Regions from separate parts of the Homo sapiens genome. Here region 2 is linked to region 1. The links come from fine-mapping of genetic effects on gene expression. A gene starts in region 1. The other region holds a variant in brackets. All regions are shown on one strand. Distances are from middle to middle. Region 1 holds the start of CMTR1 (cap methyltransferase 1). Region 2 overlaps LINC02520 (long intergenic non-protein coding RNA 2520).

Evidence for each region. PIP is the estimated chance that this variant, and not a neighbour inherited with it, causes the effect.
Region 2: its variant is the best candidate, but not a certain one, in a credible set for the expression of CMTR1 in blood mononuclear cells (TOPMed, PIP 0.79).

Annotation. Positions count from the first base shown.
Region 1 is chr6:37,429,784-37,435,155 of GRCh38, forward strand. CMTR1 (cap methyltransferase 1) reads left to right here and starts at 3,438. Exons shown (of 24, transcript NM_015050.3): 1 at 3,438-3,594. LOC107986531 (a long non-coding RNA gene) reads right to left here and starts at 3,440. Exons shown (of 2, transcript NR_171666.1): 1 at 3,268-3,440; 2 at 2,445-3,152. RefSeq lists enhancers at 3,120-3,621, 3,314-3,593 and a silencer at 3,594-3,783.
Region 2 is chr6:37,523,517-37,528,888 of GRCh38, forward strand. All of the region lies in intron 1 of LINC02520 (long intergenic non-protein coding RNA 2520), which reads left to right. Among named protein-coding and RNA genes, the nearest start is that of LINC02520, 19 kb to the left of the region's middle. The variant A/T (reference allele first, on the strand shown) is at 2,734.

The DNA.
Region 1 (5,372 bases):
ATAAATTAGCCAGGCGTGGTGGCATGTGCCTATAGTCCCAGCTACTTGGGAGGCTGAGGCAGGAGAATTGCTTGAACCCGGGAGGTGGAGGTTGCAGTGAGCTGAGATTGTGCCACTGCACTCCAGCCTGGATGACAGATCAAGACTCTGTCTCAAAAAATAATAAAAAAAAAAAAAGAATATACTCTCAAGTTAGGTTACAGTTTGTTTACATATTATTAGATTATGTTATGTATGGAGGCAGATTTAAGCCAAATGTAATTTAACAGTGTACAGTTCAGCAGTGTTAACTATATTCGCATTGTTGTGCAAAATATGTGCATTTTCGGTTGCCTTTTAGTACAAGTTGGGAGAAAACGAAGGGGAAAAAAATTGGGAAACTCACTCTTGATTTGACAGTTCTTTGACTTCTGGTTTCCTTTCTCCATATTCCTGCCATTTACTTTATACTTTACCATTTACTTTTCAGAATCCTCAGATAGTTGTTCCATGCATTCTGTCTAAGGTTTTAAATTACATTCAGTGGGAGAAACAGAATGAAATGTGCTGTTTCCATTTTGACAGGAATTGGAAATTTCTGTTTTTCTTTTTATTCTTGGGTATTTTATATATATATGTGTGTGTGTGTATATATATATATAAGAGATAAGTCATTTGTCAGATATATGTATTGTGAATCTTTTCCTCTCATTCTGTGGTTTGATTATTCAATGTCTTAATGGTGTCTTTTGTTGAGTAGAAGCCTTTTATTTTGATGAACTCCATTTTATCATTATTTTTCTTTCGATTAATGCTCCCTGGGTCCCATGTAAAAAAAAATCTTTGTCTACCCTAAGTCTGCAAAAATATTTTCCTGTGTTTTCTGTTAAAAGCTTTATCATTTTAGATTTTATGCTTAGGTCTATGATGTATCTTAATTTGCATTTGGCATAAAGTAAGAATCAAAGTGGGCCGAGCACGTTGGCTCACGCCTGTAATCCCAGTCCTTTGGGAGGCTGAGGTGGGCGGATCACGAGGTCAGGAGATCAAGACCATCCTGGCTAACACGGTGAAACCCCATCTCTATTAAAAATACAAAAAATTAGCCGGGCGTGGTGGCGGGCGCCTGTAGTCCCAGCTACTCGGCAGGCTGAGGCAGGAGAATGGCGTGAACCTGGAGGTGGTGCTTGCAGTGAGCGGAGATTGTGCCACTGCACTCCAGCCTGGGTGACAGAGCAAGACTCCGTCTCAAAAAAAAAAAAAAAAAAAAAAAGATTCAAAGTTCGTGTTTCCCTATATATTTATCTGTTTTTTCCAGCACTATTCATTGGGTATACTCATATACATTAAAAAATAAAATTTAACTTTAACTTGACTATATTTTGAATGCATTCTCTCATTATTTAATGCTTTACATAAAAATTAAATCATTAAATTTGCTAAATATGTTAACTTTTTCAATATAACTCATTTCCTATACCTTATTTTATACCCTTCAAATTATTATTTTGAGAATGGGTCCATAAGCTCTACAAGATTACCAAAAGTGTTCATGTCATAATGCATGCTAAGAAGCCTCAGTGAGGTGGAAAGAAGGACACTAAACTTTAGAACATAGAGAACTAGGTAAATACCTGTTTGCTGCTTCCTAGCTCTGTAATCTTGAACATATCACTCAACCTTCATTCATATTCCACACTTCCACAGATTCAGTAAATATCTATTGAGCACTGACCACCAGCCTCTGTTAAATCTTGTGAATTTAATACAGACAGACAATCTTTCCTGTACAGAGTTTACAGCTGAGTCGGGGAGGCAGATGAGTCCACAGGCCATTATACAACACCGTGGTAAGTGCTTTGATAGTGGAAGGACAGAGTGCTTTAGGAGCTCAGAGGTGGGTCTCCCAACCTAGATTTGTGACATCAGGAAATATTTCGAGATAGGGACACTAAAGTGACTCCTGAGGGATAAATGGACATTAGCCCAGCAAAGAGGAGAAGCATGATCCAGGCAGGGGGCTGAACTCTTAAGAGACATGGCATGTTTTGTTTTGTTGTGTTCTGTTTTTGAGATGGAGTCTGGCTCTGTCGCCCAGGCTGGAGTGCAGTGGTGCAATCTCTGCTCACTGCAACCTCTGCTTCCCAGGTTCAAGCGATTTTCCTGACTTACCCTACTGAGTAGCTGGGACTATAGGTGCGCACCACCACACCCAGCTACTTTTTTTGTATCTTCAGTAGAGACGGGATTTCACCATGTTGGCCAGGCTGGTCTCGAACTCCTGACCTCAGGTGATCCATCCGCCTCAGCCTCCCCACGTGCTGGGATTACAGGTGTGAGCCACCGCGCCCGGCGGAGACACGGCATATTTGATAAACTGAGAAGAGTCAGCATGGGGAGAACTAAGGGATAGCAGTACAAGGCATACCTGAAGAAGGGGTCATGCTGGAGGGTCTCAGAGGCCATTTTAAGGACATTAGCTTTATTCTAAGAGCAATGGGACATCATTGATGGATTTTAATCATTGTTGGGTTGTGACAGGATCAGGTTTAATTAATCAATTTTAAATTCCCTTCTTTTCACAGGTGTTGAAAATTATAAAAATCACTTTGGTTTTGTGAAGAACGCATTAGAGGGATCACAACTGGAGACAGTCACGGGAGTTTGGAGTTACTGGAGAAATTCTGCCGAGAGGGGGTAAGTGCATGAATTGTGGCAATGGGGATGGGGGTGAATGGATGGATTTGAAAGACAATTAGGAGGTAAGCGCAATTAAGTGTATGAGAAACTTTGGGGTATGAAGAAGAGGGAGATTCCTCAGATTTCTAGCTGGACCAACAGGATGGATGGCAGCGCCCTTCACCAGGAAAAAAGTGAGCTGATGGAAGAACATAAGGTGAAATTTGAATTCATGGGGTTTGAGGTGACTGAGTGAGGATGTCCAACAGACGTTTGGCCATATTGGCCTGAAAATCAGAAGAGAGGTTTGAGATGGAGAGCCAACTGTGCCCATATGGTAAGATGCTACAGGCGGCATTCCTTCTGTCCTCCCGTCCTTCGTTCAAAATCTGTTGAGATGTCCCATAGGCTGGATGTTGGGGATACAGCAGGGAACAAGAACACTGCGTTCGCTCAACCAGTTTACCATCTACCTCTCTGAACTTGTTCTTAGTCTGTAAAATGAAGATAATGATAAGATTAAGTAAGATGAGGTCGTGTGAGGGCACCTAGCACTTACAATTTTTGTATTGGTTTCTCTTCCTCAGAGCCAAAGGAGGAGATAGTTACTTTTGCTTTTGCAGCCTTTTCCGGGCGGCTTTTCCGCGCAGGCGCCCCTGGACCTCCCAGGTTGAGAGGTGGAGCGGGCCAAACCTCAGCTGCCTTTCCCGGGGCCGGGACCCGGCCGGGGGAGGACCGAGGCGCGGCGCTGTCCGTGACGTCATCAGGCTGCGCTGCCCGCAGTACTGGACCCGAGCGCGACGGTGCGGCTGGCGGACCCGGGCTGGCTTGTGGGGAAACGAAACTGAGGGAGGAGGCGGCGGCTCTGGCAGCGGCGGCGACAGTGTCGGCCTGACCCCCCCTCCGCTCCCCGGCAGCTCGCTCTCTCCCCTCAGCGTGAGTGCCGACGCGCGGCCCGGGGGGAGCAAGCGGGCGGGCGCGCGGGCTCAGCATCCTTCTCCCCTCCACCGCCGCCTGGGCCCCCCGCCCGCGGTTATGGGTCTCCTCGCCTTCTGGCCCCTTATGTCTTCCCTCCTCCTCCCACCCCCAACGCCGGCTCCCTGGAGCCCGAGCTGCCGCTGACACACGTCTCTGCGCACACATTCACACGCTCATGTTATCTTCAAATGAAGGGACTGGCCGGGAGACATGGGAGCTTATCTCTTCTCTCTGTGATTAGGGGTGGCAGTGCCAAACCGAGGCCCAGGGAGAGAAGACTGCAGAGGGGATTTGAACCCCTTCTGTGCGGAAGCAGCAGGTAGAACCAGGCCGCTTGCCTTCCGCTTAGAAGTTCCCTGCCAGAGCATTCTGCTGGCATGTGTGGGTCACTTGAGCAGGGCACTGGTTAGCTGTGTGGCCTTCACCTCTGTGGCCGCAGTCTTTTCCCGTGGAAGATGATAGGGTTGGATGAGATGATTTGGAAGGCCCAAATCTAAGGTGATGTGGTTTGGGGAGGAGCATCCGCCTCTCCTGCCTTTCACACAGCTGTTCAACAGTCCGCTTTGAGTTTGCTGTACTTCCAGTCTCCCCCCGAGTCACTTAAGAATTAAAAGCTTTTAGCGCTTGCAATGGCTAGAAGCAAGCTCTGTGATGAGCCTTCCTTTATCTCACCCTGGGGGCCTTTTGGGGGTATTTAAGACTACGGCTTAAAGTGAAATGTGGCTTAGCTTGGTCTTGCTTTCTGTTTGCTCAGTGTCTCCGGTTCTTCCCTGGGACAGCCCCTGCCTGTATCTAGTAAGAGGCTGCTTTCTCAGGAAGGTGGCGGTTGTGCATTGGGTTGATTGGCTCTTCCTTGAGTTGGAGAGAACTGAAACATGTGATCCAGGGTTTTACGAGGTTGGGAGCATCAGTGACACTTTTGGGTTTCAATACTTTCTTGCTGTACCTCGCCTTCCCTAAGGATTGTTTCCCAGCTTGTCGCCCACCCTGTATTGAGTCCTCTTTTCTGAGTTCTCTACAGCCAATCAGTTGTGTGTAAGCCACACTGTATTCACTACTTCTCTTGCTTGCTCTTTAACTTGATAATTCGTTAAGATTTCAGGGTTTCATAATCACTTCATTCCATCTTATTTTTTTCTCGTGCTTATCTCTCATGTACCTAACCATGGGGATGGATGATTGATGGTGGCATGGTGCCTGTTTCTTTCTTTTTTGTTTTTTTGAGACGGAGTCTTGCTCTGTCGCCCAGGGTGGAGTGCAGTGGTGTGATCTCGGCTCACTGCAACCTCCGCCTCAGCAATTCAAGCGGTTCTCCTGAGTAGCTGGGACTACAGGCATGTGCCACCACCCGGCTAATTTTTGTGTTTTTTTTACTAGAGATGGGGTTTCACCATGTTGGCCAGGCTGGTCTTGAACTCCTGACCTCAGGTGATCCGCCCACCTCTTTCTCCCAAAGTGCTGGGATTACAGGCGTGAGCCACCGCGCCCAGCTGGTTTCCACTCTTTTTTGTGGAGGTGGATTTCTGTCCTTAAAATTGTTGTTTTCGTAACTGAGTTCTGTGGTATAGCTACCTCCAGTCCCAATAACTTTCCCGCTCTTGTGTTTCCTCGGTCTTAAGTCATTTCACTGCTTCCATTCCCTACTCTGCTTAAAAACTTTCCCAATTCTTTCATGTTTTCAAACATTATGAAGTAAACCAAAACCAGTATTTTTATGATATTATGTAATTTCTTAA
Region 2 (5,372 bases), 94 kb after region 1:
AGAGTCCGTCTCAAAAAAAAAAAAAAAAAAAAGAAACTGAGCAGAGACAGAAGTGGTCACGCCACTCAGGCAAGATTAAATTCTGAATGAGAACCTGGTTGGCTGCCTTCCTGTTGAGGGGAAGAGGAGGCCAGGGTTGGGTGGGCACCGCCACCAATCCAGATTCTAATTTAGTGAGTTTAAATGCACCTTTAAAATGCATACAGGCCCAAACAAAACTCATCTGTCATGGTTTTCAGGGTGAGAAAGATCCATCTATCCACCACCGATATGTATCTGAGTGTGTGTGTGGGGATGTGTGTGTGTGTGTGTGTGTGTGTGTGTGTGTGTATATATATATATTTTAAACGTATATTTTTTTCTTCCCCCAAAGTAAGTATCAATTCTCAGTGACTGTAAACAGGCCATATGAATGGTCTCAGGCATCCCAACTTCTGATTTCAACCATGCAGATAGGACTCTGAAATGACATTCCGCTATGGTTTGGGGCTGGTTCGTCATTGCTGATGTGTGTGTGTATGTGTGTATGTATGTGTGTGTGTGTGTGTGTGTTCTTGTGTGCGTGTTGGAATGGGTCAGTGAGAGGCACAGGTACCGGAAAGGTGGAAATAAAAATGGAGTCTTTCCACCTTCTGGGAGCTGCCATGGCCACAGAGTGAATGTGTGCGTCAGTTGTGGGTCTTGGAGGCTGGCCAGGGGAGAGGGAGCTTCGACTTGCCTGGAGTAGGGAGCTGCAGGGACCCCGCTTTGCAGGCCCCTGGACCCGCACCCCCCCTCCATACTGCAGCTTTGTCCCACCTGGGGAGGCTTGTTGCTAATCCCGCTGCCTGGTGAGTGCTAGGTCCGTGAGCGGCTGAGAGATATGTTTATTTCCTTTTAATATTGTTCAGGGTTCAATTTACCCAGTGGCATGTGAATAAATAAATAAGAAAACCAGACCTTTGACGGGGGAAATATGGAGCTTTCCTCCTATATTTCTGAGTAATATCTCAAAACTTTTGTGACTCATGAGGGCCCGCAGTGTTTGGCTAAGGAAAAGAAAAGAAAACATGGAAAAGAAAAACATCTCGTTTCCTATATTTGTCAACAGTTTTATAGCAAGTGGAGAATATTCCATATAATGTGGCCCCATGTACCATCTGTGCCGACACCAGGTTCCCCGAGGTCTGTGGCTGTGTCTGAACTCAGGGAAGTATAACCTGTATAATTGTATCTCTGTAAAGGGGACTGTTTTCTACTGCCCAGAACCCATTACCCACCAAATCTCCTGACACTAATCTCCTAGGCCTCGAAGATCTAGGCGTGGGGGTGGGGAGTTATTGCACAAAAATCTTTCAAATGCTCTGGCTCAGAACATCGCAGCAGTTAAGAAAAGAAAAAAAAAGGCAAATGAGGGAGAAGCTGTTACAGGCGAATGAGGTAGTCGGAGGCAAGAGCAGTGAGGTGAGGATGACAACTATACATTTGTCATCTGTGTACCTGTAAGACTTTGCTGAGACCCTACTGTGTGCAAGGCATTGAGCAAGGCATGAGGAGAGCAGAGCAGATAGCAATAACAGCAGCAACAATGCCATCATGGTAATAGTCATAATAAAGTGGCTACCTCCTAGGTACTTACTAGGAGCTGGTCGCGGTGCTAGACTGAGTGGCTCAGAGTTGAGCGGCTGAGCTTCTTGTTCTCAGGGAGTTTGCAATCTGGTGGAGGAGGAGGGATTGGGCTCAAGCGCCTGCTGAAAAATCCAAGGAGAGTTCTGGTCTTGAAGGATAGTTTAGACAACCTCAATTAGGGAATTTTTAGAAATTTTGAAATTCAGATTCTGATGAATGCTTGCAATTTCAACACTGTCTTTCTAAGGGACTAAGGGCCAAAGTGACCAGGAACACTGATAATTTAGGCTTTCATGGGGTAATCTGCCAAATTTATCACAGATGGGATGGGCAAAGGAGTGAGGAGAGGAGGGGGCTGGGGAAATATGACTGGGTGAAAAGGGGACATTCAGAGCTCAGAGAAAGGCGGGGGCAGGAAGAGAAGGGGGTGAGGAGACATCTGACCATGTGGCTGTGAAATGAATCAGGCCTGTGGCATGCAGATAACAGAGCTGGGGGATCCCAAGTCCCCCAGCCCAGGGTGCAGTTTTGGGAAAGGAACAGATGGGGGCAGTTGGCTGGCCAGGAGGCGGGTGCAGTGTTAACTGAGGTCTTCTGCATCCTGAAAGGAATCAGTGAAGGTGACTGAGAGTGAAATTGCTCCTTCAGTTGCAGGACAGAGTTTGAGGATGTGCTTCCCAAGGAGGGAGCAGGGAGAGGCAGGGGTCTGAGTGGAAACCAAGCGGTGGGTGGTGGGTGGAGGGAGATGGCGGGGAAATGCTGTCCTCAGGGGGCTCCCTGTCTCAGGCCTGAGTGGTGGATGACAATGAAGAGCCAGTTGGGGAGCTGTCCACACCTCGGGTGCTGAGATGAATTCCTAGAAATAGCCCTTTCTGGTCCATAGAAGTTGAGATCCTCCTACACAGTGGTTCTCAAAGCGCAGTCCCTGGGCCAGCAGCATCAGAACCAGCTAGAAACCTGCTAAAAATGCAAATTCTCAGGCCCACCCCAGGTTTACTGAATCAGAATCTGTGTGGCAGGTGGGGGGAGGTGGTGCACAGCAATCTTTTTTTGTTTTTTGGGTTTTTTTTTGAGACAGAGTCTTGCTCTGTCACAGGCTGGAGTACAGTGACATGATCTCTGCTC[A/T]CTGCAACCTCCGCCTCCGGGGTTCAAGCAATTCTCCTGTCTCAGCCTCCCGAGTAGCTGGGACTACAGGTGCGCACCACCACGCCCGTCTAATTTTTGTATTTTTAGTAGAGACGGGGTTTCACCATATTGGTCAGGCTGGTCTTGAACTCCTGACCTCAGGTGATCTGCCCGCCTTGGCCTCCCAAAGTGCTGGGATTACAGGTGTGAGCCACCGTGCCCGGCCAGCAATCTGTTTTTAACAAGCCCTTCAGGAGATTCTGATGCCACTCACTTTGGAGAGCCACTGTTCTCAATAGCTCTTCCTGTCCCCAATCCCAGGGCCCCAGTCCTTCCTCTGCAGTGCACACCCTGCTCTGCCAGGCACTCAACCCCTGCTTCTGAAAGCACCAGAAGTTCGTTTTCTCATCCATGCTGAGCTCCACGAGGGAGGGCAATATCTTACTCAACTCTAAACTGCAAGTGCCCAGCACAGACCCTGGCACACAGTAGGTATGCAGGAAATCTTGTTAATAAGCAGATGGAAGGATGGATGGATGAATGCTAGAGCGGCAGCCAATGTGGTCTTTTAAAAACATAAATGAAATCAGGTCACTTTCTGGCTTAAAACTCTCCAAAGTCTCCCAGCATCTTTAGAATGAAATCCAACTCCTTATTATGGCTGATGGCCCTTGGCCTGGACCTTGTGGCCTCGTCACTCTAATTTATCCTGCTGTCCCCCTCAGCTGCTGTTCTTTGTCTCCCAAATACCCCCAAGTTCATTCCCGCCTCAAGCCTTTGCACACTGTACCCTCTTCCTGGAGTGCTCTTTACTCATATTGCCACACAATGGGCTTTTCTCCCTTTTCTCAGGGCTTGACACCTCTTCATAGAGGCCTTCCCTGACTACCCACCTAAAGCATCACCTCCCACCCTGTTCTATTGCCCTGTTGGTTGGGTCAGTTGTTTTCCTCTTCATGGCATGAGTACAGGTGCCAAAAGTGTACTGGGAGGGATGTCCCCCATTTCCATATGTCCCTCCCAATGTCCTTCCACAGAAAAGAAAAATAACCCTTCATATACACAACTGACATTGCCTCAATTTTTGAAAACCTTCCTGTATTTGGATTTTAAGTAGAATCATTGTGTGTACTTAGCAGACTCAGCTTTAAGATGAACTCCCTTCTAATCATCTCGTTGCCTCCGAGTCCCCTTTGGATAGGACTACTGGAACCGTCATGGACCAAGCCCCCTTAATCCTACCATGGTGGGAGTTATGGACCTGGGGTGAGAGATATTGGCCACTTGGAGAGGAAACCAGTTATGGGCCAAGACTAACATGTTCAGAGAAATGAGGGAAGGATGAGTGCTTTGAGACTGGAGTGCAAGTTGCATTCTGGTTAATCAGAGAAGGCATTTACAATGCACTAGGAAGATTTTGAAGGGATGAAGACAACTAAGATAACCATAATAATAGTTATCCTGTATAGTGCTTGACTCCATGCCAAGCACTGTTCTAAAAGCTTTGCTCATATTCATTTAATCATAAGAACCCTCTGAGATGGGTTCTGTTTTCACCCTCATTTTACAGGCATGGAAACTGAGGCACAGAGAGGTGAAGTAGCCTCTGCAAAGCTCCCCACTAGTAAGAGGTTGAGGCAGGATTCCAACCCAGGAAATCTGGTTTGACTCTTCCCCATCACCCTCTACGGCTTCTCGGATAAAGACATCAGCAGTACCCTAAGGTCTTTTCAGTTTCCCAAGCCTGTCCCCATACTCCAGCTGGCTCTCAGTGCCTCTGAGGTGGCCAGGGTAGGCGTTTCATCTCCGTTTCCTTTTTTTTGTTTTGTTTTGAGATGGAGTCTTGCTCTGTTGCCCAGGCTGGAGTGCAGTGGCATAATATCAGCTCACCGCAACCTCCGCCTCCTGGGTTCGAGTGATTCTCCTGCCTCAGCCTCCCAAGTAGCTGGGATTACAGGCACCTGCCACCACGTCCGGCTAATTTTTGTATTTTTAGTAGAGACAGGGTTTCATCATCTTGGCCAGGCTGGTCTTGAACTCCTGACCTTGTGATTCACCCACCTCGGCCTCCCAAAGTGCTGGGATTACAGGCATGAGCCACCGCGCCCAGCTCATCTCCGTTTTCTAGGTGAGGGTGCCAAAGCTGGTTAAGCAAACCACCCGAGGCTCCACAAAGAGGAAGAGGCAGAGTAGGGCACAAAGCCCTGCCACCAAGCCTGCCTGCCTGTAGGAAAGCCTTCGGGGTCCCTGTGCCCCAACCATAGAACCCGTGCCCTGGCCGCAGGAAAATAGAGGACATTTGGGGAATGACAGTGAAAAGCCGGCAGGCAGGCGGCGTCCTGCTGCTCTCCCCCAGCCCACTCTCTCCCAGCCGTAAGATATATATAGTGCCAATGGAGAAACAACACGATTCGGGTGTTTGTCTGTAGCCCCTTCTGCAGATCCATCACAGAGCAGTGCTTGGTGCAAGATTTTGCAAACAGCTTGAGATTACTGAATTAATTAGAATAAAATTAATCAAAACACCCACCACAAAGGAACCTGAGCGTGTGGAGTGTGACTTGGGTGAGGGAGGAGGCACAGCAGAGAGAGGGCATGGCAGGCTGGACTGGCTTCCTGCCTGGAGCCTGCTGGGGCAG